Linked DNA regions of Homo sapiens. The protein of the gene in region 3 purifies or fractionates together with the protein of the main gene of each other region. This does not show direct contact. Each region holds a gene or a part of one and is shown on either strand. Other genes may lie near its edges. The genes, in order: HSD17B4, ACOX1 and CAT.

The links.
Region 1: the proteins of CAT (region 3) and HSD17B4 purify together in Homo sapiens (affinity purification with mass spectrometry; 2 studies listed by BioGRID and IntAct, with this or other methods). This does not show direct contact.
Region 2: the proteins of CAT (region 3) and ACOX1 purify together in Homo sapiens (affinity purification with mass spectrometry; 2 studies listed by BioGRID and IntAct, with this or other methods). This does not show direct contact.

What each region holds. Positions count from the first base shown.
Region 1 is NC_000005.10:119,447,270-119,457,551, reverse strand, and holds the start of HSD17B4 (peroxisomal multifunctional enzyme type 2), read right to left. Parts: upstream 5,056-10,282; 5' UTR 4,977-5,055; coding exon 4,919-4,976; exon of another isoform or gene 4,799-4,918; coding exon of another isoform or gene 4,731-4,798; intron 1,238-4,730; coding exon 1,184-1,237; intron 1-1,183. UniProt on the Homo sapiens protein: Bifunctional enzyme acting on the peroxisomal fatty acid beta-oxidation pathway.
Region 2 is NC_000017.11:75,947,954-75,958,207, forward strand, and holds part of ACOX1 (peroxisomal acyl-coenzyme A oxidase 1), read right to left. Parts: intron 9,614-10,254; coding exon 9,506-9,613; intron 7,995-9,505; coding exon 7,875-7,994; intron 7,729-7,874; coding exon 7,613-7,728; intron 5,668-7,612; coding exon 5,498-5,667; intron 3,625-5,497; coding exon 3,462-3,624; intron 3,012-3,461; coding exon 2,821-3,011; intron 1,945-2,820; coding exon 1,765-1,944; intron 1,648-1,764; coding exon 1,542-1,647; intron 1,408-1,541; coding exon 1,264-1,407; intron 505-1,263; coding exon 298-504; intron 1-297. UniProt on the Homo sapiens protein: Involved in the initial and rate-limiting step of peroxisomal beta-oxidation of straight-chain saturated and unsaturated very-long-chain fatty acids.
Region 3 is NC_000011.10:34,454,448-34,464,701, reverse strand, and holds part of CAT (catalase), read right to left. Parts: intron 8,692-10,254; coding exon 8,500-8,691; intron 8,038-8,499; coding exon 7,885-8,037; intron 3,452-7,884; coding exon 3,313-3,451; intron 598-3,312; coding exon 467-597; intron 1-466. UniProt on the Homo sapiens protein: Catalyzes the degradation of hydrogen peroxide (H(2)O(2)) generated by peroxisomal oxidases to water and oxygen, thereby protecting cells from the toxic effects of hydrogen peroxide.

The DNA.
Region 1 (10,282 bases), on a different chromosome or scaffold from region 3:
AAAATTCATCCCTGCCAGAAGAAGCAGATTGGATTAGCAGACAGTGCCTATGATCTTAAACAAGGAACATCCAAAGCGTCAGTGTTCCTTCCATAAAGATAAGCTACACATCCACAATGAAGGAGAAAAGTGTATCAAGTGCTCTGCTTAGGGCTTGTTTAGAAAACCTGGTTGCTTGCTTACTCTTTTGTTATATGTGTCTCCCTGAACAAACTGATGAAAATTCGTCTCTCTGTATTGCCTCGTTAAGATGTCAGAAAGCTGAAATTAGAAGATCATTGTGGGCCCACAGTTTTATCCCAGGAAATATGCTAATAAGTACTGGGTCCTACATATCCCCCTGCACTTAGCACCCATTTAGTTATTCCCCAGAAAGGCTCAGTTGTGGACAAATTCGTTTCTGTGTCCACACCAACTGTCAAGCACATTAGATCAGTCCAAACCATGCAGATTACTAAAACCTCCCACCTTTAGGATTCTTCAATACAGTATCTTCCATCTGACCCCTCCACAAACAAAAACTCATGTAACTGCCCCCTCAATTAAATTTTTTTAAAACACTTCCAGCTGAAAAGTTTTGATGAAAGAGTCAAGAAACCCATACTTTAGATTCCTTGACTCCAAACTTCCAGTTCTCAAAATTCAGTTATTTCTTACTTTTATCAATACACTTACAGGGGCTCTCTTTTGATCTCGCACCAGTAGACAAACCTCCTGTCTCAAAAAATTACAGCCTACAATTTACTGAAGTCAAGAATTTCCTTTTATACAATAAATGCTTGTCCCCACCCTTTTCTGTGAGAAACAGGGTTTTTTTTGCGCCATCACCCAGATTGGAGTGCAGTGGTATAATCATAGTTCTCTGCAGGCTCGAACTCCTGGTCTCAAGCGATCCTCCCACCTCAGCCTCCTGAGTCACTGGAGTTATAGCCACAAGCCAGCATGCCTACCCCCTAGCCCTTCGTTATCAATTCTGTTAAGCTGGGAATTCTGTGAAACTGGTTCCCTTTTAAAAGTAATTTAGACAGACAGCCTTAGTCGGGGTAAAAACCTTCTGGCAAAAGTAAAAATTAATAATAAAATTCAACCTTGACAAATTATTTGATAGAAAGACAAAGATAGCTTGTAAAGATTGTATTTCAGTTATCAGCTACAGATTAAAAAGAAAAACACACCAACTTACCAACAACTAACGCTCCTCTTTCTGCAAAAGCCAGGGCATAGGCTCGGCCCAATCCTAATCAAAAACAAAATAATCAGAAAGTTGAAGAAATGTCAGCATAATTTTTTTGGTCCGCTCAACTCAATCCCCATTTAAAGAAATTGGTGAACAATTAATTACATTTTAATGATACTCTCAACCTATCCTATCACTGACATTCTCAACCTATCCACTCTCTTCTGCTTGCAGAGGCTGGAAAGCTTAAAACTGTATTTTTCCACCTATTCTACTACCACTTCCTACCATTCTACTTAGCTGCTAGGATGCTGTGAATTGGGTTCCACCATCTGATGCATCTGCATAAAACTTAGAAGGTGTAAGTGAGACAGAGACCACCTTACTGGGAGTTCTGGCTGTTGTTGTTAAGAAGCTAGTTTTCTTGAAAGTTCCTAGGTATTCAGAAACTGACTATAGCAGCGACTTCTTCATTCAGCTCCCTAATCCCTGGATGGCAGCTTCCATACTTCAGGTCCCTAGTGCCAGTGCTACTTGGGCTGTGGCACAGCTCCAATGACAGCCTCAGAGGTATTGCCTCCTCTAATGGATCAATTTCCTATTGTTTCAGGAGTTATTCTAAGAAGACCTGCCTAAAACCTAATTGCCTGTATTGAATCCTTTGCTGCTTAAAATATCTAGTGGTTTCTGTATCCCACAGTGAACCCTGACTACACAGTCATCAAATACAGAAAATATTTAATTCTGACTCAAAGCTACAAGGTGTAAATTTATATATCCAAAAAGAAATTATATATATATATATAGAGAGAGAGAGAGAGAGAGAGAGAGAAAGTTTTGCTTTTTTTCTTTTTTTTTGAGATCCAGTCTCACTCTGTCGCCCAGGCTGGAGTGCAGTGGCATGATCTCGGCTCACTGCAACCTCCACCTCCCAGGTTCAGGTGATTGTCCTGCCTCAGCCTCGCGAGTAGCTGGGACTACAGGCGCCCGCCACCACGCCCAGCTAATTTTTGTATTTTTAGTAGAGATGGGGTTTCACCATGTTGGCCAGGATGGTCTCGATCTCTTGACCTCGTGATCAGCCCACCTCGGCCTCCCAAAGTGCTGGGATTACAGGCGTGAGCCACCACCATCCCCAGCCAAGAGAGAAGTTTTATAGGCATAGAGTATCTCGGGAAAAACACATTAGAAACTGGCAATTAGTGGTTACCTCTGGAGGACAGAACTATGTGGCTAGCAATAAGGGGTGGAAGGCTTACTTCTGGATTGTTTTTCTGTATTGTTTACATTTTTTAATATGTGTATATTTTTTACATTTTAAGTTAATTGATAAATTTCATTGACAAATGAATAAATTTAATTAACAATTTATATTTAGTATAAATTAATCAATAAGTATACAAATAACAAACTGAGATACATAAATTATTAGCCCCTTCCAAAAACAACCCAAGGCCAGGAGTAGTGACACACATCTGTAATCCCAACACTTTATGAGACAGAGGTGGGCGGATCATTTGAGGTCTGGAGTTCAAGACCAGCCTGGCCAACAGGGTGAAACCCCGTCTCTATTCAAACCACAAAAATCAGCTGGGCTTGGTGGTGTGCACCTGTACCCCCAGCTACTTGGGAGGCTGAGGTAGGAGAATTGTTTGAACCCGGAAGGCAGAGGTTGCAGTCAGCCAAGATCATGTCACTGCACTCCAGCCTCGGCAACAGAGCAAAACTCCCTCTCAAACAAAAACAAAAAGAACCAAAAATATACAGTTTTCCAAAACTAGGAAATTTCACCAAATAACTTATTTTAGAATTTAATCCAAGCAGAAGGATCACTTGAGGCCAGGAGTTTGAGACCAGCCTGGGCAACAAAGCGAGACTCCATCTCTTGAAAACATTTAAAAATTAGCTGGGCGTGGTGGCACATGCCTACAGTCCTAGCTAGTCTGGAAGCTGATGCAAAAGGATCACTTGAGCCCAGGAGTTCAAGGTTACAGTGAGCCATGATCGGGTCACTGCACTCCAGCCTGGGTACAGAGTAAAACCTTTAGCTCTGAAAAAAAAAAAAAATTTAATCAACTCTGAATGGGTAAGAGAGAATTTAACCAGTTTATGAACAGCAGGTGCTAAGTTCATAACTGTCTAGTCACAACTCATTGTTTCACAAAATCAATTTTGTGGGTTACAATTACAATTTATAAATAAAACAGAATAGAAAATAAATTTCAGGATGCATTGCCTGTACTACACACTATATCATGAACTGGTTTTAAATACAGATGTATGTGCTTGTGTAAGTGTACTGAGTACTGGTGTAAAATGTACTGCATACCATGTGTAAGTATGCTAATGGTGTCAAAAGAAGCAGTCCCTATCCTTGAATGATTTTCAGATATAGCCCCTGAAAAGGAAAGTCTCCTTAGCGATGGCAAAAACGTCTTAGAATGTAATCCCTGGACCTCCTGCATGAAAATTATCCAAGAGCTGTCAAAAAAGATTTAAAACACCAAGCGTTGTAAAATACATTATTTACAATAAAAGCAAAGTGTAAACAAAATGTTTTCCTAAAAACATTTAGAAGGTATGACTACACCCAAATACATGCCCATGCAGAGATAACCAGACAGCTATGGGTATAAAATACTTGGCTATTCATCAACACTGAAAGCATTTTCTGAAAGGCAGCATAAGAAGCCACTTTATCAATACAGATATGAAAGTACATAGGAATTAATTGACAGAATTCCAGTTTGTAACGTTTAATATATAACTCAAATAATTCATGCATTAGGGCCTTTCCAGGTATAAGGTACTACCAGTGGAGAATCAAAGGTGCATAATGTCAAGATCCCTGCACTTGGAGGTTACAGAGGTCACCCACTGGTGAGAAACTAATGTAAAATCTCACTGCACAGCATCTATGTTGGTATGAATGGTTTGTTTTAATTTTTTGTACTTTAAAAAATGGGGCTATTTCACATAACAATTTTCCATTTTGCCGCTCCTGAAATACAGGCAACTTTCCCACTGGCCGGTCCACTTCGGAATTCTCTGCTCTCCAGTTCCTCAGATGTGCCCATCCTACTCCCATTTTCTTTCTCCATCATACGCCTGACCCCTGTGCGCATTTGAGCTTACAACCTCTGCCAAGACTCCAGTGGATTTCGAGAACAGATTGTGACTTGCTAAGCATACAAACTCCAACGGGGAAGGGCTCTTATCAGACGCCCTCTTTAAAGAAGGTCCTCTCACGAACTTAAAATCTTACGACAGAGGGAAACAAACACTGAACGACCGAATGACTTTTCAGGAGCTGACATCTCTGCGCTTCAGGGGGCGAATTCCAGCCCCCGCCCCTCGCGGCTTTTCAGTCCTTTAAAAGACTAGGCAAAGATCTAAGAGAGTTAATTGCAGGAAGAGTAACAATCGATGCCCACAGATAAGGGTCAGGGAGAACTTTCACCCAGTTTTGCAATCAGCAGCCCAGCCTGGCCTCTCCTCTCAGGCAGGACCTTGGGAAGCCCACACCGGGGTGCTGGGGAGAAGCGGGCTGTACCTGCTTGAGAGACCAGGTGTTTCCGGCTCTTTCCTCCTCAAGAGATGCGGTGCCTCAAGAATAACCATTCCCCTCCCCACCACCTCAGCGGGGTGACCTCAGCTGCGGCTGCGCGCGTATGCCGGCCCGAAAAGAGCAGCCAGCTGCGCCTCAGCAAGGGGCGCGGCCTCCAACCTTCGCATGCTCACCTGCCCCCGCGCCGGTGACCAGTACCACCCGCCCGTCGAACCTCAGCGGTGAGCCCATGAATAAGGCCTGCAACGACACACACACGAACAAGCAGAGCCGCTGGACGCCGACTGCGGGACAGGAGGAGGCGGGGAATGGCGGGGGCGGGACGAGGGTCAGTGACTTGCCGATTTCTGGTAGGAAGATGAGCGCAGAGCGCGCGGCTCCCTTGGAATCCTGGGAAATGTAGTTAAGAGTGACTCCACTCGCTGGAAGACTTGCCTTCCAGGGGCCATTTCTGCGGCTGGAAGCAATGGGAGCTGCTAGGACTTGTGTAGAAGAATAGTTAACTCGACACCTTGCGTTCATCTATTCACCTGTCGTTTCATCATTCACTCAATAAACGTTTTCTGGGTTTAGTTGCTGACCTAGAGAAACAGCATGCGGCCCCTATCCTTGAGGGGCTTCCAGAGATAGCCCCTGGGAAGGAAAGTCCCCCTTAGGGATGGTAAAGATTTGTCAGTGTAATAATCCCTGCACTTCTACATGCAAACATCAGGGGACTGTCAAAATGCAGAGTCCTGGACCCCCACTGCTTACCTCCCAAAATAGAATCTCAAGGGGCAAAAACATTTTGACAAGTGTTCCTAAATGATCTTGCGTTTGTATGTTGAGAACAGTCATAGTTCAATCAACATTTACTGAGCATCTCCTGAGTTTTGATAGGATCCTCAAGCTACTCAGAGTCAGATGGTAAACTTTCAATAACGGTGCAGCCTAGACTTGTGACCAATGTGTGTAAGTGAGCTAATGGTGTCAAAATAAACAGACCCTATCCCCGCTGGGGAGAAAGAGGAAAAACTTTCTGAAGGAGGACCAGGACCTAAAGTGGCGACCCCTGCAAAGAAAGAAGGGCATTACAGGCAGCACAAACACTAGCTAGGTTTGGGGAGAAAGAGGGTAAAGCCACAAAAGCAAAGCCAGCAAGATCATGTTTAGATGTTTGAATTTTGTGCTGAAAACGGTTTTAAGTAGGATTACTCCAGAGAGTGGTGGGAACACATTTACACTATGGAAAGATCACTTTGCCCATTATGGAGGATTGATTGGATGTTGCGGGAAGTCATGGACCCCAAACAGAGGGACCTGCTAGAGCCGCAGCAGAGGAACATAAATTGTGAAGATTTCACGGACATTTATCAGTTCCCAAATAATACTTTTATAATTTCTTATGCCTGTCTTTACTTTAATCTCTTAATCCTGTTATCTTCGTAAGCTGAAGGTGTACGTCACCTCAGGACCACTGTGATAATTGTGTTAACTGTACAAATTGATTGTAAAACATGTGTGTTTGAACAATATGAAATCAGTGCACCTTGAAAAAGAACAGAATAACAGCAATTTTTAGGGAACAAGGGAAGTCAACCATATGGGCTGACTGCCTGCGGGGTTGGGCAAAAACAGCCATATTTTTCTTCTTGCAGAGAGCCTATAAACGGACGTGCAAGTAGGGAAGATATCACTAAATTCTTTTCCTAGCAAGGAATATTAATATTAATACCCTGGTAAAGGAATGCATTCCTGGGGGGAGGTCTATAAACGGCTGCTCTGTCTTATGTGGTTGAGATAAGGACTGAGATATGCCCTGGTCTCCTGCAGTACCCTCAGGCTTACTACGGTGGGGAAAAACCCGGCCCTGGTAAATTTGTGGTCAGACCAGTTGTCTGCTCTCGAACCCTGTTTCTGTTGTTTAAGATGTTTATCAAGATAATACATGCACTGCTGAACATAGACCCTTATCAGTAGCTCTGCTTTTGCCCTTTGTCTTGTGATCTTTGTTGGACCCTTATTAGTAGTTCTGCTTTTGCCCTTTGTCCTGTTCCCTCAGAAGCATATGATCTTTGTTCTGCTTTTTGCCCTTTGAAGCATGTGATGTTTGTACCTACTCTCTGTTCTTACACCCCCTTCCCTTTTGCAACCCTTAATAAAAAACTTGCTGGTTTGAGGCTCAGGTGGGCATCACGGTCCTACTGATATGTGATGTCACCCCCGGCAGCCCAGCTGTAAAATTCCTCCCTTTGTACTCTTTCTCTATTTCTCAGCTGACTGACACTTATGGAAAATAGAAAGAACCTATGTTGAAATATTGGGGGCAGGTTCCCCCAATAATTAGAGGTGGGCAAGGAGAACATAGAAAAGATTTGGGGGAAATTATGGAAACCAGAAGTAAGGCAGAGGAAATGTTGAAGAAGAAATGTTGAGATAAACTGTATTTGCAAATGGAACTGACAGGGATAGAAGGCAGGGAAATTCTGGGCAGAAGAGGGCAGGTCCCCAGTGAGGGCTCCAACCTCAAGCCTGAAAACACAGCCCAAAGTGAGAACATGCATCCCTGTTTTCCCTCTTGAATGTTGCCTTTTCCAAAACCACCTATGGTCCCCCTGCCCCCCATCCTGTGCCCATAAAAACCCCAGGCTCCAATGGCAGAGAGGAGAGGAGAGAAGAAACAGCTCGACTTCAGAGGTATGGCTTAATGGCGTTGCTCCTGGGGAAGATCACCTTCTCACTCCATCCCCTTTTCAGCTCCCCTTCCCATTGACAGCCACTCTCATCGGCAATAAAATCCTCTGCATTCACCATTATTCAATTTGTTCCTGTGACCTGATTTTTCCTGGATGCCAAACAAGAGCTCAGGTGCCACAGGTGTGACACTAAAGGCTGTCACACTGACCCTCTGCCCTCACTGGCAGAGAGCAAGTGCCTCACACCAAAAAACAGAGGGCCTACTGAGCTGTTTAACATTTAAGCCATCAGTGGATGGCAAAGTTAAAAGAGCACTGTAACACACACCCTCTGGGGCTTCAGGGGCCTTAGGTACCCCTCTAGACACTGCCAAGGGCCACATAGAGTTTTGCTCCTGCATGCACTGGCCCCAGCTCCTGCACCCACTCACCTGTGCTCCCCGTTCCTGTGGAACGCAGTGGGACCCAGTGAATGGAGTCCACCCCTGCCAGACCCAAAGCGGCCAGCTAGTTCTAGATCCTATGTGCTCCAGTTCCTGCCCCCACCCATGAAGGGGTCAGGAAAATTTCCTGCTTCAGAACTAGTCTTTTTGATTAATTAGATGTAGATATGAGAAAAGAGCAACTGAAATAATCCTATATTTTGATTTGAAAATCTAGATTACGATGGGCCATTCATCAAAATAAATAGTGGAGAAAGAGTGGCTTTGGAGGGGTTATGGCTTCAATTTTAGACAAACTGCATCTGTGAAGGGGAAGCAAAACTATGGCTAGAGACACCTAGCAGACAGCTATGGTTCCAGAGCTCTGACAGCTTGGTTTCTGTTATAAATAAAGTTTTGGTGCCACAGAAGAAATAGCACTCGAATATAAAATTTTTTTTTCTTCTCAGCAACGCAGTTTACTTCTATAGAAGGTTGCACTCTCACAGATGGAGCAATGGTGAGCGCACACCCGGACAAGGGAGGGGAAGGGGTCCTTATTCCTGATGCATGTGGCCCCTGCTGCTGTGTCATTCCCCTATTGCCTAGGGTTAGTCCACACAGGTTAAACTAATTCCAGTTGGCTAATTTAAAGAGAGTGACAGGGTGAGTGGTTTGGCAGGAAAAATGGTTATGACAGAGAGGACATCGGAATGAGCCAGGGTAGAGAATGAGCAGGTAATCAGAATGAGACAGGGTGGAGCAGGTAATCGGAAAAGGTTGCTTTACGAGGAAGTTAAGTTTCAAAGTAGAAGGCAAAGAATTGAATACACTGACATACTGATTCTTTTAAAAGAAATTTAGAACTCATATCTAACAACTCCTCCTCTTGCATTTCCTTACAGCTCTTTCTCTTCAAACTTCTTTAACATGTCTTGGCTTAGTTGTTCTGCTTGATTTTCCAAAAGAATAAGCTTCTCTGGATAAGGTGGAGGATAGTTAAGGGAGGATTTAGTAAGTGCCATTTCTATGAGCCTCTGCACCAACCCACAGATGTATGGTATGATACAGCACCCAACAAGAGTAAGTACACCCATTACGGCTGCAAGGGAAGTTAAGAATTGAGGCTATTATTCCTTTCCATTTACCAAACCACTTTTCTAGGCATCCTGTAAAGGGCCCATTTACCCTTAGTTGCTGGCTAACTCACTGGACAGAGCAGTCAGACCTTGCAATGCCTTTGTTATACTTCCATTAGGGGCGGTATTGTTTGGGATGAAGGTACAACACTGAGTTTTAATCATGATGCAAACTCCTCCTCTTTCTGCTAATATCATGTCTCAGGCTATCCTATTTTCCCAAGCCATCTGGCTAGTAGCCCCTAATTGCTCAGCTATTCTTTTAACAGCATCTCTAGGGTAGTTAATAAATCGCTGTTGGTTGCAATAAATGTAGTTTATCAAACCTACATTTTTATTAATTGTAACTTACCAAAATACTGGCTGAAATCCTGCAGCTATTTGATTTTGGGCTTTAAATTGATCTGGTATTCCCAGTGGGACTCCAATTGCGTCTAAATAGACATGAGAGTTGAAAGACCCATAAGGGGCCTCTTTCACTTTACGATGTCTTATTTTTCCTTCCTCCAGTTGATGAAATGCCAGAGTAAAAGAGATAACCAATTGAATTAGACCATAAGTACTGCTCTAATTATTTGGCAGAGTGTCCAGTAAAGGTCCTCCCTAATACCACCATACAACCAGTCAGGGATGAATAAGGGCAGACTGTTGGGTCAGCTCTTGGAAGTGCCTGACTTCCCTGCATCCTGTTAAGTCTCCAGGGAATGCCAAATTTTTCCCCTTGTCATTGGAGACATGAGGTAAAATTGGCTTTGGAAGATGGAGGCTGGATGGCCCTTGGGGGCTGACCCACAGCGTGTTGAACTTCAGGAAATAGCAGAGAAAGAGCTTGGCACAATTTGTTATTCCAGGCGGTAGAATCTTGAAAAAGAGCTACCATGCACTCCATGTCCAGTTGATTTGAGGACCATCCCAGTGGAAAGGGAACAACCTGGGCCTCTGGCCTACTGTGCACACAACAGTAACAGTCGCTTTTGTTTCAAGTGCGAACGGAATATTTAATCCATTTTAACCAGGGATTTACATCTTTTTACTCTGTTTCAATGGCTATGGTTTGCCTTAGGTCTTCTATTTCTACTACTGAGACCTTGCTTTTGTCATTTGGCATGAGGCGAGGCATAGTTTGATTTCATAGGTTTGGGAAAGGGGCAGTTGTAGGAGGTGGAGGAGGGAGAACAAACCACATCTTAAAGAAACCTATAGGATCCTTTCCAGTGACCTCTACTCCTAAACCATAAAAATGCTCAAAAGTGGGGTTAGAGTTGCTAGTGGTAGGAATAGTAATGGCTATAGGCACTGGA
Region 2 (10,254 bases), on a different chromosome or scaffold from region 3:
GGTGATCTGCCCACTCGGCCTCCCACAGTGCTGGGATTACAGGTGTGAGCCAACGCACCCGGCCTGTATATATTTTTAAATGTTCAATTCGTTATCAAAAATTGAAATTGATTAAGACCCTGGTTACTGTGGGAACAACCCAGTTCCCTTCTGAACCTGTTGCTCAAATAAAGTGACTGTCAGAAGTGGCCATGGTACTTTCAGAGCTTTCACAGATAAATCCCCTTCGAGAGGCCTTTCCTGCTTCAATATTTAAGTGAAGACTTTTAAAAAGGTGCAGAGACACTGGATTTTTACCTCTGCTTTGTTCAGTGGGGAGTTCTTAGCCCACTCAAACAAGTTTTCATACACATTCCCATCATAGCGGCCAAGCACAGAGCCAAGTGTCACATCCTGAAAATCAAATGCATCAACCAAAGCAACAGCATCTGAGCGAATCAGAGTGAGTAACTCCTTTACACGCTGGTTTACTTGTGTAATCTGAGGCTCTGTCATGATGCTCCCCTAAAAGAGACCAAAATAAGTAAATAAAACATATATATGTATATAGATAGACATAATTATATGCATATACAGCTATAAAGCGGATGACAATTATTTTTTTCTTTTTTTTTTTTTGAGACTGAGTTTCACTCTTGTTGCCCAGGCTGGAGTACAATGGTGTGATCTTGGCTCACCGCAATCTCCGCCTCCCAGGTTCAAGCAATTCTCCTCCCTTGGCCTCCCAAATAGCTGGAATTACAGGCATGCGCCAGCACACCTGGCTAATTTTGTATTTTTAGTAGAGATGGGGTTTCTCCATGTTGGTCAGGCTGGTCTCGAACTCCCGACCTCAGGTGATCTGCCCGCCTTGGCCAAAGTGTTGGGATTACAGGCATGAGCCACTGTGCCTGGCTATTTTTCTTTTTCTTTTTTTTTTTTTTTGAGACAGAGTATTGCTCTGTCACCCAGGCTGGAATGCAGTGGTTTCATCTTGGCTCACTGCAACCTCTGCCTCCAGGGTTCAAATGATTCTCGTGCCTCAGCCTCCCTAGTAGCTGGGATTACAGGCATGTGCCACTGCACCTGGCTAATTTTTGTATTTTTAGTAGAGACAGGGTTTCACCAGGCCAGGCTGGTCTTGAACTCCTGACCTCAAGTGATCACCGTACCCGCCTTGGGCTCCCAAAGTGCTGGGATTACAGGCATGAGCCACCGTGCCCAGCCAACAATTATTTTTCTTAAAACAACAACAAAAAAGACTTATACTTAGAAAATACTGACCTGAAGGAAATCCCCCGCGTTCTGACTGATTCCATACAGAGAATACAGCAGACATAAACTCCTTAAGACAGCTTGAATGGCTTTATCTTGAATTTTGAGGAGTTTTTCTGAAAAGAGCTTAACTACCACATAGTGGCAATGTGCCTAAGATTAAAAAGAAAACACCAGAGTTTGAGAACCTTGGAAAAAGATTCAATATACAGTGACTAGGGTTTCTGTACCAGAAAATGCGGGATGCTGAGGGCAGGGAAGGGGAAAAAGAGAGAACTACCACTGACCTCACTTGCTCGAACAAGGTCAACAGAAGTTAGGTTCCAAGCTACCTCCTTGCTTTTTCTGTGAATCACTTCTTTTTGAAGGTTTTTTGCAGCAATTTCTACTAATCTGTTAAGACATAGATTGGAGGTCTGAGGAAATGATCAACAGTACTCATGCCTTCTTGCCATCTGTCAGGGCCCCAGCCCCACTGCTGCGTATTCTAGCTCTTGAGGGAGAGCTCACCTGGCTGCACGGAGTTTATATGCTTCGGTTAGGCTTTCGGGGCTGTTGATATCCACCATGGTTGGCCAGACTGCTACCTGCTGTGGCTGGATGCGCTGACTGGGCAGGTCGTTCAAATAGGACACCATGCCACACACCAACTTTCCTGAGTGCACCTGATCATAACTTTTCATCAGGAACCTAAAAGTCACCAGTAAACATGCTTTTAGTAACTCTACTTTCTTTTGTTTCTTTTGAGATGGAGTTTCATTCTTGTTGCCTAGGCTGGATGGAGTGCAATGGCCAGATCTCAGCTCACTGCAACCTCCTCCTCTTGGGTTCAAATGAATGATTCTCCTGCCTCAGCCTCCCAAGTAGCTGGGACTACAGGCACCTGCCACCATTCCTGGCTAATTTTTAATATTTTGTTTTTTTAGTAGAGACAGGGTTTTACCATGTTGGCCAGGCTGGTCTCTTAACTCCTGACCTCAAGTGATCTACCCGGCTTGGCGTCCCAAAGTGCTGGGATTACAGGAGTAAGCCACCACACCTGGCCTTTTTTTTTTTGATGGAGTTTTCGCTCTTGTTGCCCAGGATGGAGTGCAATAGCGCAATCTTGGCTCACTGCAACCTCCGCTTCCCAGGTTCAAGCGATTCTTCTGCCTCAGCCTCCCAAGTAGGCCGGGATTACAGGCAATGTGCCATCATGCCCGGCTAATTTTTTTGTATTTTTTTAGTAGAGACACGGTTTCACCATGTTGATCAAGCTGGTCTTGAACTCCTTACCTCATGATCTGCCCACCTCAGCTTCCCAAAGTGCTGGGATTACAGTCATGAGCCACTGTGCCCAGCCCAGTAACTCTATCCTTGATACAACTGCAAGCTATGTAACAGGTGCTTCATACTCTCTAGCCTCACCACGAAATAAAAACCGTGAGTCAGGATGGAAGGCAAAAGTATACCTTTCAGGAACAAATATATATATACGGTGAAGAAAAACCATGGGAACAAGAACCTAGGAAAAGGACTAGAACATTCTTATGAACAGATGGGAGGAATCGAGGATTTGACTCTCACCTAGCCGTCTGGAGCATCATGACAGTGTTTTCTCCCTCAAAGGTACAGCTTGGGGTGAAATTGACATAAATATTTGGAAGACCACTGCAATGAGAATAGCCATGCCCACCACAAGCCATCCGACATGCTTCAATGCCAGTGTTTGCAGTCCAGGAGGTGAAAGCCTTCAGTCCAGCGGTGAGGGCATGAAGCTGAGAGGACAAGCACAGATCTGTCAGGACATCTGTGGTGCTGAGAGCCCGAGAACCAATGAGAAAACACACCCCTCCTCTAACATCTTGGCCACTGTCAAAACACAGCTGCCACACATGCAAACTGAAGAAGCACAGCTGTCCGACTGGCCAGAAGAATACAGAACACTACCCATGCCCATCTAAGCTGTTCTACTTGGCTAAACATTCACCACTTACATTTCCTTGATTGACAAATAATCAACATGGTACAGTATTTCTGATAACACTAAAAATACTGAACAACAAACCCCACAGATCTTCATATCTGATCTACTTTCAACCAGAAGAAGTTCTCAGAATACATACTTCTTTTCAGGAAATACCAACATTTAGTTATCTCTGGACCTCATCCAACAGGCAACCACGAAACAGAAGGGTGCCCATGAGTGAATGAGACCAAACTCATACCTCAGGCAGTTCACTCAGGTCCCCTTGACCAATGCCTTCGTTAATCCGGTGATAGGTCTCCTTCATGTATGCGCCCACAAACTGGAAGGCATAGGCAGTGGCCAGGAGTGGAAAGAGTTTATACTGCTGGGTTTGAAAATCCAAAATCTGTGGTTCTGGTTCACTACGTGACATAGAAAAAGAAAAAAAGTAGTAAGTAAATGTTTATACAGAACTTTCTATATGCCAGGTTCTAATCTAAGCACTTGGTATTTTAACTTATTTAGTCCTCTTAAGGGCACTGTGAGGTAGTTACTATTACTATCTCCATTTTACAAATGGGAAACTGAGAGGTTAAGAATCTGCCTGAGGTCACACAGCTCGTATGTGGCAGGTCTTAGATTTAAATTGAGGCTTTTTTTTTTTTTTTTTTTTTTTTGTGATGGAGTCTCCCTCTGTCACCCAGGCTTTAGTGCAGTGGTGCGATCTTGGCTCACTGCAAGCTCCGCCTCCCAAGTTCAAGCGATTCTCTTGCCTCAGCCTCCCACAGTGGTGGGATTACAGGCATGAGCCACGGTGCCTAGGCTATTTGGCTCCCTAAGACCATGCTGTAATTACCTTGTACTGCGTAGGCTGACAGAATTTTCTGGCTGCAAAGTCCATATCTGTCCTAGTCTTTCCAGTATGACTAAGAAAACCGTAGCTCATAGCAACATACAAAACCAACGCTAGTCAACCTAATAAGAAGGCAATGCCAAAAAGCTCTACTCACCAGATGGCTGAATACATTGTATTTTGACCACAATCTTGGAGAAGACCCAATGGATGGTGTTAAATATTTTGAAGTGTAAGAATTAGCAAGGGTCTCATTGTATCAATTCCTTTATTCCTTTTTAAAAATGTAATTATTATTATTATTTTTTGAGATGAAGTCTCTAACACCCAGGATGGAGTGCAGTGTTGTGATTTCGGCTCACTACAACCTCCACTTCCTGGGTTCAAGTGATTCTCCTGCCTCAGTCTCCCGAGTAGCTGGAATTACAGGCACCCGCCACCACACCCAGCTAATTTTTGTATTTTAGTAGACGTGGGGTTTCTCCATGTTGGCCAGGCTGGTCTTGAACTCCTGACTTCAAGTGATCCACCCGCTTTGGCCTCCCAAAGTGCTGAGATTACAGGCGTGAGCCACTGCGCCTGGCCTTAAAATTTAATTAACTTTTAATTTTTTTGAAAATAGACCAGCCTGGCCAACATGGCGAAATTCCGTCTCTACTAAAAATACAAAAATTAGCTGGGCATGGTGGCGTGCACCTGTAATCCCAGCTACTCAGGAGGCTGAGACAGGAGAATCACTTGAACCCAGGGTGGCAGAGACTGCAGCAAGCTGAGATCGCGCCACTGCACTCCAGTCTGGGCAACAGAGTGAGAATCCATCTCAAAAAAAAAAAAAAAAGAAAAGAAAATAGAGACAGGGTCTCACTATGTTGCTCAAGTTGGCCTCAAACTCCTAGGCTCAAGTAATCTTCTTGCCTTAGCCTCCCAAAGTGCTGGGATTACAGGTGTCAGCTACCACACCTGGCCAGTTTCTTTATTCCTTAGGAGTAAAAAGAGTATCAGGGAGTATCAGTGAAAGGCAGTTGTAGGAATAAACTGTGGCTATGAATGCAAAAGGGAAACAAATTTAATGTCACTTTCACCATGCACAATTTACAGTTGCTAGTAGTAATCAGAACTTTCAAACTGCCTTTAGTGTGTTGAACATTTCACTTATAAAGTTCAAGTAATATTATTACTATTTTTCTTAAAAAGTTAAAAATAATAAGGTGGGTATTCTCTTTTTTTCTTTTTTGGCAGTCACTGATTATAGCAAGGGTGGTTATTTCTGTCTTTCCTCTTAAGAAAAGGAAGCCTAGATATGAAATTACAGGCCCAGTTATCACCCTAGCCAATTTTGCAGTGCTAATGCATCTTCTGTATTGACATTTGGGAATTCTGGGATCTGAATGGGGTAAAAACTAGGCCTTTGGTACTGAGCCCATCTAGGACCCTATCCTTACCCTGGCTTGATTTCAGACTGGTGCCTCACAGCGCTGTATCGGATGGCAATGGTGCACGCCTTAGACAGAGCCCGAGCAGCTTCTCCCACAAGGAAGGACCTGACAAACACCATGGTCCCGTAAGTCAGCTTGTTACTCAGCGGTTTCACGTATGTGCCATCAGGCTTCACCTGGAAGAAGAACGTGGAACTGATACTTCCTTCTTTTAAGCCCAAGAGGCAGTTCAGTGGTTCTCAAAGTGTGGTCCCTGGAATAGCAGCATCAGCATCACCTGGCAACTTGCATGAAATACTACATCTTAGTCCCCACCCTGACCAACTGAATCAGAAACTCCAGGGTAGGGCCTAGCAACCTGGGCTTTAACTGGCCTTCCAGGTGATTCTAACGCATGCAAAAGTTTGAGAATCATTGGTTTAGCAAATCAAAATATGTCCTTCAACCCTGACAACTGTTTCTGATTTCACTGTCGCAGTAAAAGAAGCATCAGAGTGGGCGTGATGGCTCACGCCTGTAATCCCAGCACTTTGGGAGGCCAAGGCAGACAGATCAAGAGGTCAGGAATTCGAGACCAGCCTGACCAACATGGTGAAACCCCATCTCTACTAAAAATACAAAAATTAGCTGCGTGTGGTGGCACGTGCCTGTAATCCCAGCTACTCAGGAGCTGAGACAGGAGAATCGCTTGAACCTGGGAGGCGGAGGTTTCAGTGAGCTGAGATTGCGCCACTGCACTCCAGCCTGGGTGACAGAGCAAGACTCTGTCTCAAAAAAAAAAAAAAACCAAAAAATGCTGGGTGCGGTGGCTCATGCCTGTAATCCTAGCACTTTGGGAGGCCGAGGCAAGAGGGTCCCCTGAGGTCAGGAGTTTGAGACCAGCCTGGCCAACAGGGTGAAACCCCACCTCTACTAAAAATACAAAACAATTAGCTGGGTGTGGTGGCGCATGCCTGTAATCCCAGCTACTTGGGAGGCTGAGGCAGGAGAATCGCTTGAACCCAGGAGGCGGAGGTTGCAGTGAGCCAAGATCACGCCACTGCACTCCAGCATGGGTGACAGAGACTCTCTCTCTCAAAAAAAAAAAAAAGGGGCATCAGAAGGAAAAATGCATTATTAGCTCCTTTTTTTTTTTTTTTTTTTTTGAGACAGAGTCTCGCTGTATTGCCTAGGCTGGAGTGCAGTGGTGTGATCTCGACTTACTGCAACCTCTGCCTCCTGGGTTCAAGCGATTCTCCTGCCTCAGCCTCCTGAGTAGCTGAGATTACAGGCGTGTGCCATCACACCCGGCTAATCTTTGTATTTTTAGTAGAGACAGGTTTTCACCATATTGGTCAGGCTGGTCTTGAATTCCTGACCTTATGATCCATCCTCCTTGGCCTCCCAAAGTGCTGGGACTACAGGCATGAGCCACCGCGCCCAGCCTTATTCCCTCCTTTTATGAGACGGAGTCTCACTCTGTTGCCAAGCTGGAGTGCAGTGTCATGATCTCTGCTCACTGCAACCTCCGCCTCCCGGGTTCAAGCTATTCTCCTGCCTCAGCCTCCTGAGTAGCTGGGACTACAGGTGCGCACCACCACGCCCAGCTAATTTTTTGGTATTTTTAGTAGAGATGGGGTTTCACCATGTTGGCCAGGATGGTCTCCATCTCTTGACCTCATGATCTTCCCGCCTCAGCCTCCCAAAAGTGCTGGAATTACAGGTGTGAGCCACTGCGCCCAGCCTCCTTTTTTTTTTTGAGACAAGGTCTCACTGTCATCTAGGCTGGAGTACGGTGGCATAATCACAGCTCACTGTAGCCTCGGCCTCCCAGGCTCAAGTGATCCTCCCACCCCAGTCTCCCAAGTAGCTGGGACTACACACGTGTGCCACCATACCCAGCTAGATTTTTTTACTTTTTGTAGAGATGGGTTCTCACTATGTTGCCCAGACTGATCTTGAGCTCCTGGGCTCAAGTCATCCACGCACTCAGCCTCCCAAAGTGCTGGGATAACAGGAATATGCCAGTGTGCCCTGCTGTTATTACCTTCTAAAAGAACAGACCATTCTAACCCTATTGTGAGTAACAGCCACTCAACTCCACTGTTTGATGCCTCTGCTTTATTTTCTATCAAAACATACCTGGGCATACTTCATCAGCATGTTTTCTCTGGGAATACGATGGTTGTCCATTTTGAGGTAGCCATTGTCTATCTCATCATAACCAAATTTGGGGCCGATGTCACCAACGGTAATTCCTACCACAGATGAAAGGACAGTCACGAGATGTTTATGCTCTGGAATTTCTGGCTTTTGCTCCGCCTCTTCAGTTGGGCATTCTACCTTTTGCAGAAGAAAGTGCTCAGTTTCATTTTCATCTCAACATCAGATGAACAGTTCTTACCTGGCAAAGGCTTATGGGTCCCGATTTCACGAATAGGTACGATAAAGGCATGTAATCCATAGCATTTCCCCTTAGTGATGAGCTGGGCAAGAACTATTGCATGATTTGAAGTCTTTCCAACTGTAATATCAAAGAGAACAAGGGAGGGGTGGGCAAACGTTCATACATTTTTAAAGGGTAGAAAAAAGAAGAAAGAATATGTTAAATCTAACACTAGACTAAACCAATAGTATGTGTCCAGAAAGCCTTTCTGCTGACAGCATCACACCTAGCTTTCAGAAAGAAATTCCCTTAAGCTAATAGTTATTACTTTCTTTTCTACTTATTTCTCATACATTTACGTAGAGAAAATTTTAGGATAAAAATAAGAATATTAATTTAAACTACTTCCTTGTTATCCCTTAAGGCAGTGCTGTCCAAAACAGTAATCACTAGCTACATGTGGCTTCTTACATATAAATTATAAATAAATAAAATATATAATGTGAATAACAAAATCCTTCAACCACTAACTGTATTGGAAATATATATTCCAAGATAATAACTCAGAATGGAATAAGAAGATATAAAAGTTTCGGGTCAGCCGGGCACGGTGGCTCGCGCCTGTAATTCCAGCACTTTGGGAGGCCGAGGCGGGCAGACCAGAGGTCAGGAGTTTGAGACCAGCCTGGCCAACATGATGAAATCCCATCTCTACTAAAAATACAAAAATTAGTTGGGTGTGGTGGCACGCTCCTGTAGTCCCAGCTACTCAGGAGGCTGAGGCAGGAGAATCGCTTGAACCCAGAAGGTGGAGGTTGCAGTGAGCGGAGATCACACCACTGTACTCCAACCTGGGTGACACAGTGAGACTCCATCTCAAAAAAAAAAAAAAGTTTGTGTTAAAACTATTTAAATTTTTTTCTTTTTTTTTTTTAAGAGACAGGGTTTCACTCTGTCACCCAGGCTGGAGTGCAGTGGCATGATCACAGATAGTAGCTCACTGCAGGCTTGAACTCTTGGGCTCAAGTGGTCCTCCCACCTCAGCCTCCTGAGTAGCCAGGACTATAGGTCTATAGGTATGTGCCGCTATGCCTGGCTTTCCTCTCTCTCTCTCTCTCTCTCTCTCTCTCTCTCTCTCTCTCTCTCTCTCTCTCTCTCTCTCTATATATATATATATATATATATATATATATATATATACACACACACACCTCTCTCTGTCTATATACACACACACACACCCCTCTATGTACACACACCACACACACATATATTTGTTTGTTGGGTTGTTTTTGAGACAAAGTCTTGCTGTGATGCCCAGGCTGGAGTGCAATGGTGCAATCTTGGCTCATTGCAACCTTCCCGGGTTCAAGTGATTCTCCTGCCTCAGCCTCCCAAGTAGCTGGGACTACAGGTGTGCGCCACCACACCCGGCTAATTTTTGTATTTTTAGTAGAGATGGGGTTTCAGCATATTAACCAGGCTGGTCTTGAATTCCTGACCTCAAGTGATCTGCCCACCTCAGCCTCCCAAAGTGTTAGGATTTCACCACCAAGTCTGGCCGACATTATCATAAAAGCTCTACATTCTAAGCAAAATCTCATGACAAACCTTCAAAACATCCAATAAATGCTGAAAAATTCACTTACGCCCACCAGGCCACCATTTAATGGAGGTCACAGTAGGACTGTTGAGAATGAACTCCTGGGTTTCAGGGTCATACGTGGCTGTGGTTTCCAAGCCTCGAAGGTGAGTTCCTAAGGAGATAAATTACATTGACTTCAGTTAAGAGATGGGGAAAAAAATAGGCACAAGGAAAAATTTCCTGCACAGTCCTTTAAACTCTCATATCTCAGAGAAAAACAAAATCTAACAAAAAACACCTGTAGATGAGCTACAACTGGTTGATAACCAAGACACTGAATTTCCCACACTATCTGATGGTTTCCTATTAAGTTGAAAATCTAAGTGTCATGCATGTTCCATTTCTGTATTTGATTTGTTACATTTATTTACAGCAACTGAAAGAAAATATAAAGGCAACTTAGAATCACATTTTTAAGATCACAATATATGAATTTAACAGGGATGTTAACTGTCTTTTTAAACCCATCTCTGAGTTGCAAGTATGCCAATTTCAAGTCATATGTATTGTGTTAACCACACCAATTCAACATTCTTGAATTCTGTACTAATGAGAAGAATGAGATAACATGTGAGAGGAAGACATTTCAGCCAAAATTCGTATAAATTAAAAATGTATGGCTGTGCGTGGTGGCTCATGCCTGTAATCCCAGCACTTTAGGAGGCCGAGGCGGGTGGATCACGAGGTCAGGAGATCGAGTCCATCCTGGCTAACATGGTGAAACCCGTCTCTACTAAAAATACAAAAAATTAG
Region 3 (10,254 bases):
AAGCAGACAGATGGAGAATAAGCCACGTGAAGGACGAGCCCTGCAGTGGAAACGCCCACACTCTTGTGGCCGAGGCTCCTGGAGCTATTTTGGATCTCTAGTTCTAGTCCTTGAACCTGGACTGTCCTGCCCAGATTCTTAGATTTGTCTCCACGTAAGCTGTACATGCTCATTTCTTAAATTCCCATGAGATAACTGTTTCCCCAATGCCCCCTCCCCATATCCCTTCAATAAAGTTTGAAGAAACTGAGACGGAGTCTGCATGCTTTGAGGCAAAAGACCAGAGTAATATAACCCTTCAACTCCACCCAGTAAGGGGCCCAATTTACTATTACAGATGAGTCTTCCTTGAATTCAATTTAAGATACATCAGACAGTTGGGGCATTTGCAGGGAGGGGGATTATGCAGGCATTGACAAGGAGAATTAGCAGGTGACTTCCATAGCAGATAAAGAGAAGTCATTACCTGAGTAACGTTATCATCATTGGCAGTGTTGAATCTCCGCACTTCTCCAGAATATTGGATGCTGTGCTCCAGGGCAGAAGGCTGTTGTTCCGGAGCACCAAAGCTGTTGGGGTAGTAATTTGGAGCACCACCTTCAAAACAAAACCACCCAGATGCACTTAGGAATAAGAAAAGTCAAGTAAGTCTGCAAATAATCACTGTGATGAGAAATAAATTCAAGTGGTAATCAAATACACACGTACACATACACAGATATAAACACAACGCACACATATTATTTTTAATTTCCCGCATTTAGCTACAGGTAGTATGAAGATTCTTAGGGAACGCTGCCATCTGCTAAATGCTTGCACAGGCTGCCGCACTTTATGAATGAATCTCAAAGTCCCTTTTGACACTTCAAAGGGTCTCATCTATCAAGTCTTCTGAGGGGTACAGCACATGTAGAAGTTTATACAGGCTTGATTTGGCCACCATATAGGGATGAGGCTCAAAGACACATTTCAAAATTGACTTGAAAAATTGTGTCATTTGGACTTGGGCTCAATTCAAACACTGCATCACAAAATTCTTGAGGGAAATCTGAAAGTTCTGGTTCTGCTCCTTGAATCTACAGACACAAGCATGGAGCTCTGTGATGGGACCTGACTGCTGCAAGGTCACACGGTAGCCAGTGGTAGATATGGGGTTGGAACTCTGGGTTTTTTGTCTCCTCCAGCCCAGCATATACAGTATTTCCATTACAGAACTCTACTTTGCTATTCCGTAAAGTGTTTTTAGGATTCTCAGGGTATCTCTCCTTTACTGACAATGATGACTTTGTTCCATTGTAGCTTCACTTTCATACCCTCCACAGACCAATAAACAAAGAATTTTTTAAAATGTGGTAATTGTATATCAGCACTTACTTATCTGGACTTATAAGAAACAGTGACAAATACAATCAAAATATTTTCTATGACTTTTGAAATAAATTATAAGGCTTTTTTTTCGTTTTAGCATATTTATTTTCTCAACTATGCTTTGGCTGACATTAGCAGAAGCTTTCATTACCCGAGCACACACTGCCTAAACAGGAGTGGCCCAGAAACATATTAAGTGGTTTGAGCAAACCAATCTGGGGTTGGAATTTTAGCCAGCTCACTGCCGTAATAGATTATCCACAGTGGATAATCAAGAGGTGCCTATGTATGACATTCATCAAGACACCAAGTGTGTGTGTAGGGGAAGGAAGAACACCATACTATTATAGAGCCCAATTATTCACTCAACAAATTCAACAGATCAGTCACATCTACATGAAAAGCAAAATGCTCCAAAAACCAGCCATCACAGTGTTTTCTTCATTAAGAACTAGCTCTTTGAAATGTGCCTAGTTAATTTTTAAAATCCTACTTCCAAATGAGCCCTGACCTTTACTCAAAGTGGTAGTTGTCTTTAAAGCACTGACCACAGGAACAATTAAGCTCTTTCACTGAGCTTCAGGGTCACAGCCCAAATGCTCTACTTTTACAATCAAGCCAGGCGCGGTGGCTCATGCCTGTAATCTCAGCACTTTGGGGGGCCAAAGTGGGTGGGTCACCTGAGGTCAAGAGTTCAGGACCAGCCTGGCCAATGAAACCCTGTCTCTACTAAAAATACAAAAATTAGCTGGCGTGGTGGCACACTCCTATACTTCCAGCTACTCGGGAGGCTGAGGCATGAGAATCTCTTGAACCCAGAGGCAGAGGCTGCAGTGAGCCAAGATCATGCACTGCACTCCAGCCTGGGCAACAGAGTGAGACTCTGTCTAAAAAATAAATAAATAGATAAATAAATATAGCAAAATGTAATAGCTATGACCTTTGGGTGTTGGGACTATATGGGAATTTTTCTTTTTTCTTCTTTTTCCTATATATTCCAAATTTTCTTTAGGACACTTGTATTATTTTTATCATAGAAAAATAAACTTTGTTTGAATATAGACATCTGTGGCTATAAATATAAATCATCAGTAAAATTTCTAAAGGGATCAATGCATGCAGTCTATATTACTAAAACACGTGTCCTAAATGGGAAAAGAAAATAACTAAGATCTATATTAAACTGTGGAATAGTAAAAGGAAAAAACTTTAATCAAGCATTCTGCTTGACTTATTAGAAAAAGTAATTAGAACCAGAGGCTGTTTGTATACGACACCAAAAAAAAAGTAGTTAAAAGAAAAAGATCCTAAGTTTGATAAATGAGTTCCAAAAAACAAAAAGTGGTAAGTTGATTCACCTAACTTTATTCACTTAGGAAAAAATGAAGGGAGGGGAATCCTTTGACTTGCTCTGCCTCCCCTACTCTCTTCTCCCCAGCCTTCCCTGCTAATTCTAGCTCCCCTCCAAATTCTAGCTAGACCTGCTCCTCCAGGGCCACAGCAGAACTGCAAAGAGAAACAGAAGACTCCAACTCTTGGCTTTCGCACTTCCAAGGGTCTAAGTCTTGGTGATTTCACAGTGAGTTAAGGAATTGTCCATTTTGGTGAAGTGTCTTCAAAACCTAACTCCCAAGCTGGATGTTACTGTACTCTAGCCAGTGTGAAAGATCTTTCTCCCTGCTTTTAACTACTGGATACAAGTAACATCTGAGGTGGAAATGCTCAATAAAATATATAAAATAGATAAAAAGCATGGAGAGTCCTCAGGCAGCCTAAATCTTCACTGCTGGGCAAAAAAGCGCCCAGTTAGCAGCACCTGGGGAGCACCTTTACCAAGCAGGAGGTCCTGCGGGGCCAGCTTGAGAGCCACTGGCCTGGCCTCCCGCCCATCTGCTCCACGTGCCCTCTGCCCACGCAGGGGGAGCCCAACGTCTTTAGGCCTACCCTGATTGTCCTGCATGCACATCGGGCCGTCACGCTGGTAGTTGGCCACTCGAGCACGGTAGGGACAGTTCACAGGTATATGAAGATAATTGGGTCCCAGGCGATGGCGGTGAGTGTCAGGATAGGCAAAAAGGCGGCCCTGCAGTAATAAATACAATAGACACTGACTAGGGGCAGTAACATATAACATAGGAATGGGCTGTAAACTTCATTCTGAAATTTGAAGTACAAAGCACTCTGTACATGGTTACCACAAAATTCTGCCTTTCCCGCTACTTAAGAGTGAAGCCTCTACTCTTATGAAACGAGTTCTCCCTAACTGAACAGTTCTGAATTTCCCAGGCCCTCTGGCCAACCATAAATCTTCACATCTGTTTTTGGTAATAATATCTTTTTTTTTTCCTTCTGCATAACAAGTTAGTGTCTTGTCTTATACAGTATTACTTCCTATTCCCAAGGAAGTATTGCATTATAAAATAAATGTGCTAGAACGTTAACTAACTGAAATATTGAATTAATTCTATTCCTCCTCATTCCCCCACTCCAGGGAAGGAACCAATCATTTGCTCTTTACAAAAAGCAACACATTTCTACAAAACCAACAGCATGGGAAATTCTTCAAATAAGCACTTCCAACTGGGCACAGTGGCCCATGCCTATTATAATCCCAGCACTCTGGAAGGCCAAGGTGAGAGGATCGCTTGGGCCCAGGAGTTTGAGACCAGCCTGGGCAACACAGCGAGACCTGTCTCTACAAAAAAAAAAATTAAAACATTAGCCGAGCATGGTGGCATGTGCCTGTAGTCCCAGCTACTCCAACAGGCTGAAGTGGGAGGACTGCTTGGCCCAGGGGATTGAGGCAGCAGTGAGCTGCAATCGTGTCACTGCAATCCAGCCTGGGCAACAAAGCAAGATCAGAAAAAAAAAAAAAAAAAAAAAAAAAGTACCGCCCACTCCCATGCTGCCTTCTGAATTATCTCAGAAACACTTTGAGCTCTGAGACTTTCTAGATATAAACAACAATAACAAAAAATCTGTGGTTCAAAATGAAAGCCCTACAATGCCAAAGGTAATCAATCTAAGATTAAATTATGTTCCATGTTAATCAAGGCAAAGATGGCAAGCATCTTGAAATTTCTTTCAGTTAATGCTCAAACAAAAGCTTTATGATAAATTCTGCATTAATCTTAATATCTAATTATTGAACTATTCTCATTATTCATACTCCTTTTCTATGAGCAATTTTTCTTCCATTGAATTTATCATTGGCCTTGAACCTTAAAAGTATTTTTATATCCCTAATTCTATGAGGCAAAATAAAAACCAAATTGAATAGGGCAACTTAAGCAATAACTTTGTTCCAAATCACTGATACCAACAGACTTAATCCAGTCCCAGTGTTCTGTCAATATTTTGCTTTTGGCTGAATGACTCCCTCTTATCATCATTTCAAATAGCCTAAGGTCATATTTAGATGACTAGCCATGCGGCCATGACCAAAACTCAGCTATAGGTTGGAAGCTGGTTGTCTCCTTTGGCTCAAAAAGTTGTGCTCTTGACTCCATCAACAGGATAGGAGATACAATCCTGCCATGGGCAGCTCCTGGATGTAGCCTCTATCACCTAATTCTGATTTTGTGTCACCCTGTGTTTATCAGGCAACCTTACCCCACCTATGGGTGGAGACCAACAAAGGTTGGGAAATGGGCACAGTGAGGCCATACCCTGACACCAGCTTGAATCTAGGCCTTCCCCAAGGCCCTGTGCCTGAACTCCCTTGCTGGACCTGCGTGAGTGGGAAAGCCTTTCCCACCCAAGCAACCGGCCCAACTTCTCCAACTCTTGGCAAAATGCAGAGAATGAGAGCAAGAAAGGCTGCACCTGTGTCCTCAGGTACTCAGGGGACAGGACAGTCTCTCTATGACTTGTATTATATTATTTGTCCATTTCACCATGGTGTGGCTCACCACTTTGGATAAAGTTATAAAACTTAATAACATGACCTTGTTAAAAGGCACCTGTAAACACTGCCCATTAATATATCAACCGCCACTGCCTAGGCTACAATACTCATGAGCTCTCAGCAGGAATAACCCCAAAGCCCCCCTAACTGGCTTTCCACTTCCTGTCCAACAAGACAATCTACATATTCCCTACTCACCTACTCAAAAAATCTCAAATCATTCCTTAATGGTCACCAAATGGCTAAATGAGTACAACAGTCCTTCCCCAACTGTATGGCTCCTCACAGGCTCCATGGTATTGGAACTGATAGCTAAATGACCTAAGAAGGATGGGGGAAAGCTAGGCTAGAAACAATAACTCGACAAACTTATGAAAGCTCTTTCGAACAGTTTCTAAAACTCATTTAAAAAAAAAACAACCTATAAAGAGTACACTGAATTTAAAATAGATATATTTGCCAGAACTAAAATTAATACTAACAGAAATTATATTACTTTCTACTTGTCATCCTTTTTCAGAACTCTCTTCCCCACTGTTTGAATAGCTGCCTTAGACATTTGCTTTCTTAGGAATGTAGAGAATACGTATTTGCTTTGCAGTCCTTTTCCCGGGGGCCTAGTTCTCCATTCAAATCTTCATTGTTCTTCAAATTATATGACTCAGTGCTGCTGACTGCCTCACGGTCCCACTGTGGTTCCAGAGACCCATGGTGACTTGGATTCTTGTGAAAAGAGTTTAGGTAACCTTGTATTCCTCAATCCGTTCCCTCCCTGGGTAACCAGGGTTATGCAGCCTCTGCTCTGCCCATGACAATTTCATGCCTTGGCAAATCCCATTAGCCTCATCCTCTCACAGTTCAGCCACCAGGTAGGGAGTTTTAGGGCCCAGGATTACCTTGTTTTGGCTTCCTCTACTCCCTGGTTTCAATGCAAACTTCTGCTTTTCCTCTGAGAACTGCCTGACTTTCCTTTTGCTATTCCCAATCCCTAGTTGTCGCTTTTTCTATTTATCACCAAGAGGAGTGATTCTACTCAATATATCCCAGACCACACTTCTCAAAACTGAAGAAAGCTTTTCACTCCTACTCAAGCATTTAAGGTCCCCTCTGACATATACTCAATGAACCTACCCAAACTCTATTCTTCTCATTCAGGAGAGAGTGACTGTTTATAGTTTCAACACACCTAACATGTCCCACCTTTGTGCCTATACTCATGTCCTTCTCCTGCCGCATTTTACCTACTAAAAATCAAAATCCTATCTATTCTTCAAAACAATCTCAAATGCTACCTCGTTCATGAAACTTCGTGGCTGACCTCCTATCAGACAAAATTTTGCTTTCTGGATCACCATGGCATTCTGCCTTACATTATGGCACCCAAGACAGTCCACCATACACAACAGACAGGTACTCAATTTGTAACAGTTGAATTGGACTAAAAACTAATGAAAAACTTACTTTCTATAAAAGCCTCAGATGTTCCCCAATGTCATAAGCAAAAAAGTTATTTTTTAAAAACGGAATCTTAGCTTGTCCTCCATGCAGACTGAAACCTGAACTGGAATCAGATACTTACATAAGAAGTAACCTTCAGTCGCTGTGGTCTGATTTAGGGTACAATCTTTAACCTTTGTTTCAAGGTCACAGTCTAAAACCACAAAAGATTGATTTATACAGTAATTATTAAGCCAATTATTTTCTTACTGATTCTGATCCAAAGTACAATTTTTCACTCTTGGTACTCTTGAAAGAGATATTAAAAAGTGATGTAAAACATACTGATGGCTTAACATTAGCAAGGTGAATGGTTAATCCACTGCTTTTATCACTGGCAGCATACATGTAGTTCATAAAGATCATCCCTAGATCTCTTTTTACAAATGGAAAAATTCAAGCATCACCATGAAACAGAAAATGAGGCCAGCCACGGTGGCTCACGCCTATAATCCAGCACTTTGGGAGGCGGAGGCAGGCAGATCACTTGAGGTCAGGAGTTTGAGACCAGCCTGGCCAACAGGGTGAAACCCCGTCTCTACTAAAAATACAAAAATTAGCTGGGCATGGTGGCGGGCGCCTGTAGCTAATCAAGAGGCTGAGGCAGGAGGATCGCTTGAACCTGGGAGGCGGAGGTTGCAGTGAGCCGAGATCATGCCACTGCACTCCAGCCTGGGCGACAGAGCAAGACTCTGTCACAAAAAAAAAAAAAAAAAAAAAAAAAAGAACAAGAAAATAAAGTTAGGCTTACCAAGGTATTATAATTAATTAACCATACTTCAGCTACAGACAGAACAAACCATGCTTCACTCTATCAATACTTAAGGTATTTCTATTATGTCTTTTTTTTTTAATTAAGAGAGTAAGTATTCTTGTCTTCACATATGTAGGGATCTTACCATGGACTTTTGTTTATACTTGGTTTACTCAAGGAATGCTCATTGAAGAATAGTTCACCTCAGTGAATCCCACAAGGTAACCAAGCACCCAGATTAAAGTTTAAGTAATGTTCTTGTTAATTCCTCACATAAAGATCATGCCAAGCTGCATATTTTGTGTGTGCATGCTCACATGGACACCTGCCTCAGAACATCTCAATCCACCAGGCTCACCTGAAGCATTTTGTCAGGACTGGCCTCAATGCCAGGTGGCATGTTGCTTGGGTCGAAGGCTATCTGTTCAACCTCAGCAAAGTAATTAACTGGATTCCGGTTTAAGACCAGTTTACCAACTGGGATGAGAGGGTAGTCCTTGTGAGGCCAAACCTGAAAATGATGTCATATTCACAATTACCAGGCAATCAACTGAAGGAAATCAAAGCTACCCACAAAAATACCAGATTTCAAATACAATCAAGCCAATGAAAATAATTTTTAAATCCAATAAAACATAAGAATTTAAGATGAGTGCCTTAGTTAAATCTTTCACAATAGTAAGTGGTAAATACTGACAGTTTCCCCAGGAAAAAGTACATCAGCTTTTCATAATCTGTTCCCTGTTAATAACAATATATGAAGCCACATACACATACTCAATGAAATGACAAACAGGAACGTGGAAGTAAGATGCTGGTAAGCACTCATTCACAGCTTAGGACACTCTGAAGTGGTACCCTCTGTATTTTGTATATGACTTCCCCATTATTATAATTGTTTGACTAGATTTTTTTTCTAATTAGGTAAGAAGAGACTTAAAAAAGAAAACAATATAGTTGTTTACTGACTCACCTTGGTGAGATCGAATGGATTAAATGGAAAAGTTTCTGCCTGATTAAATGTCATGACCTGGATGTAAAAAGTCCAGGAGGGGTACTTTCCTGTGGCAATGGCGTTAAAAAGATCCCGGATGCCATAGTCAGGATCTTCCTGGGAAAGTCTCGCCGCATCTTCAACAGAAAGGTTTTTGATGCCCTGGTCAGTCTACAAAATGAAAGAAAGAAGCTCCAATGGAAACTTATTGTCAAAGTTATCAAAATTTCATCAGTAATTCATTGAAGGATTATGAGTAACACTGCCCAAAGAATGAACTTTCTTTACAACAATACTTCTATTGTTCAAATCTGATACTAATGAATTTATCAACAAGAAATTCTACTTGATTATCCCAATACTTTTAAATGTCAAGGGAATCCCATCTACACATTTCATATTTAAAATCAGTCCTATCTTTCCCTTTATGTATTCTATTATTTGAATTTTTACACTCATGTTACTTTCCAAATCAGAAAAATCAAAATATACTTAAAAGTAGGCAAAAGATTAATAAAATTAAAGGACTACTTGCCTTTTATCATGAAGTAATGTTTTAATTCCATTTCATGACAGCTCAAATCAATTACTGAGACTGTGCTCGGCCAGTATCCCTTCACCCCTGTCCTATTCCTTTTTTTTTTTTTTTTAATAAATCATAGAATCATAGCTCATAGAGTTGAAAAGAACTTCAGTACAGCCACCTGGAACTAGTTCTCTGACTATGAGCAGGCAAAATTAATATTCTGACTTTCCAAGCAAGACATTAAAACCCAGAGAAGCTGTGTCACTTCATAAGTGCTCCTGTTATCATATCATACTGTTCTTTGATGGACTGACCATGTGATCTTATTCTCAAAGACCTCCCAACAAGCCAAGTGCCGCAGAAAGATTTCCTTAGCAAAAATCAACTCTGAACGCTGGTCTATTTCTACCACAGAAATCCCAACTGTCTCATCAGTGAAAAGGTTTGAACTCTTACTACTGAACAAGAAGTAAAGCCACCTTCAGGATTAAAACAATGAAGGTCACCATGTACAGATCGCCCAAAGAGCTAATATATTAAGTAGTACAATAACACTGCAATACCTTTCTGATTTTAACTGAATCCTTTAGGTTTAGAAAAGAATAATCTTAGGTCAGAATAATCCAGACTGATGAATCCATGTAGATCTCAGGCTACCTTAGGGCCCTAGGATAAAAGACCCACAAGCAATCCAATCTTTCCAGGACTTGTATAGCTGGTAATATTATGCCAACTTCACAGTGAAAAGAACTGGAGCTCAAAGAACTTTTAATACTATGCCCAAGGCCACAATTATCTAGGAGAGTAGAAATTTGAGTTCAGGCTGGCATAACTCCAAGGCTACCAACTAGACTGGCTGTCCTAGATACAACCACTTAGTCTTATTCTAAGTAATACTACATTGACCCTTTTGGCAATTACAAGCCAATGGGTCAACTGTTTCATAAAATTTTTCCTTGTCAAATATTATAGATCCAAGTTATGAATATAAAAAGAGGTGATAGTTTTCCTGTTTGATATACCTACATTAAATTGTTCAGATAAAGAAGAAAGCAGGATAGAAGAAAATAGGGCTTTTGGATGTCACTAAGAGAGAGATTATCCAGTACTGGTCACGAGCCCACTTCTTTCTGCTTATCTTAGCAGCAGTATTTGGAAACAGAGGTTCTCAGGCTTGTTTCTGACTAGCCCTTGGGAGTTCTCTGGGA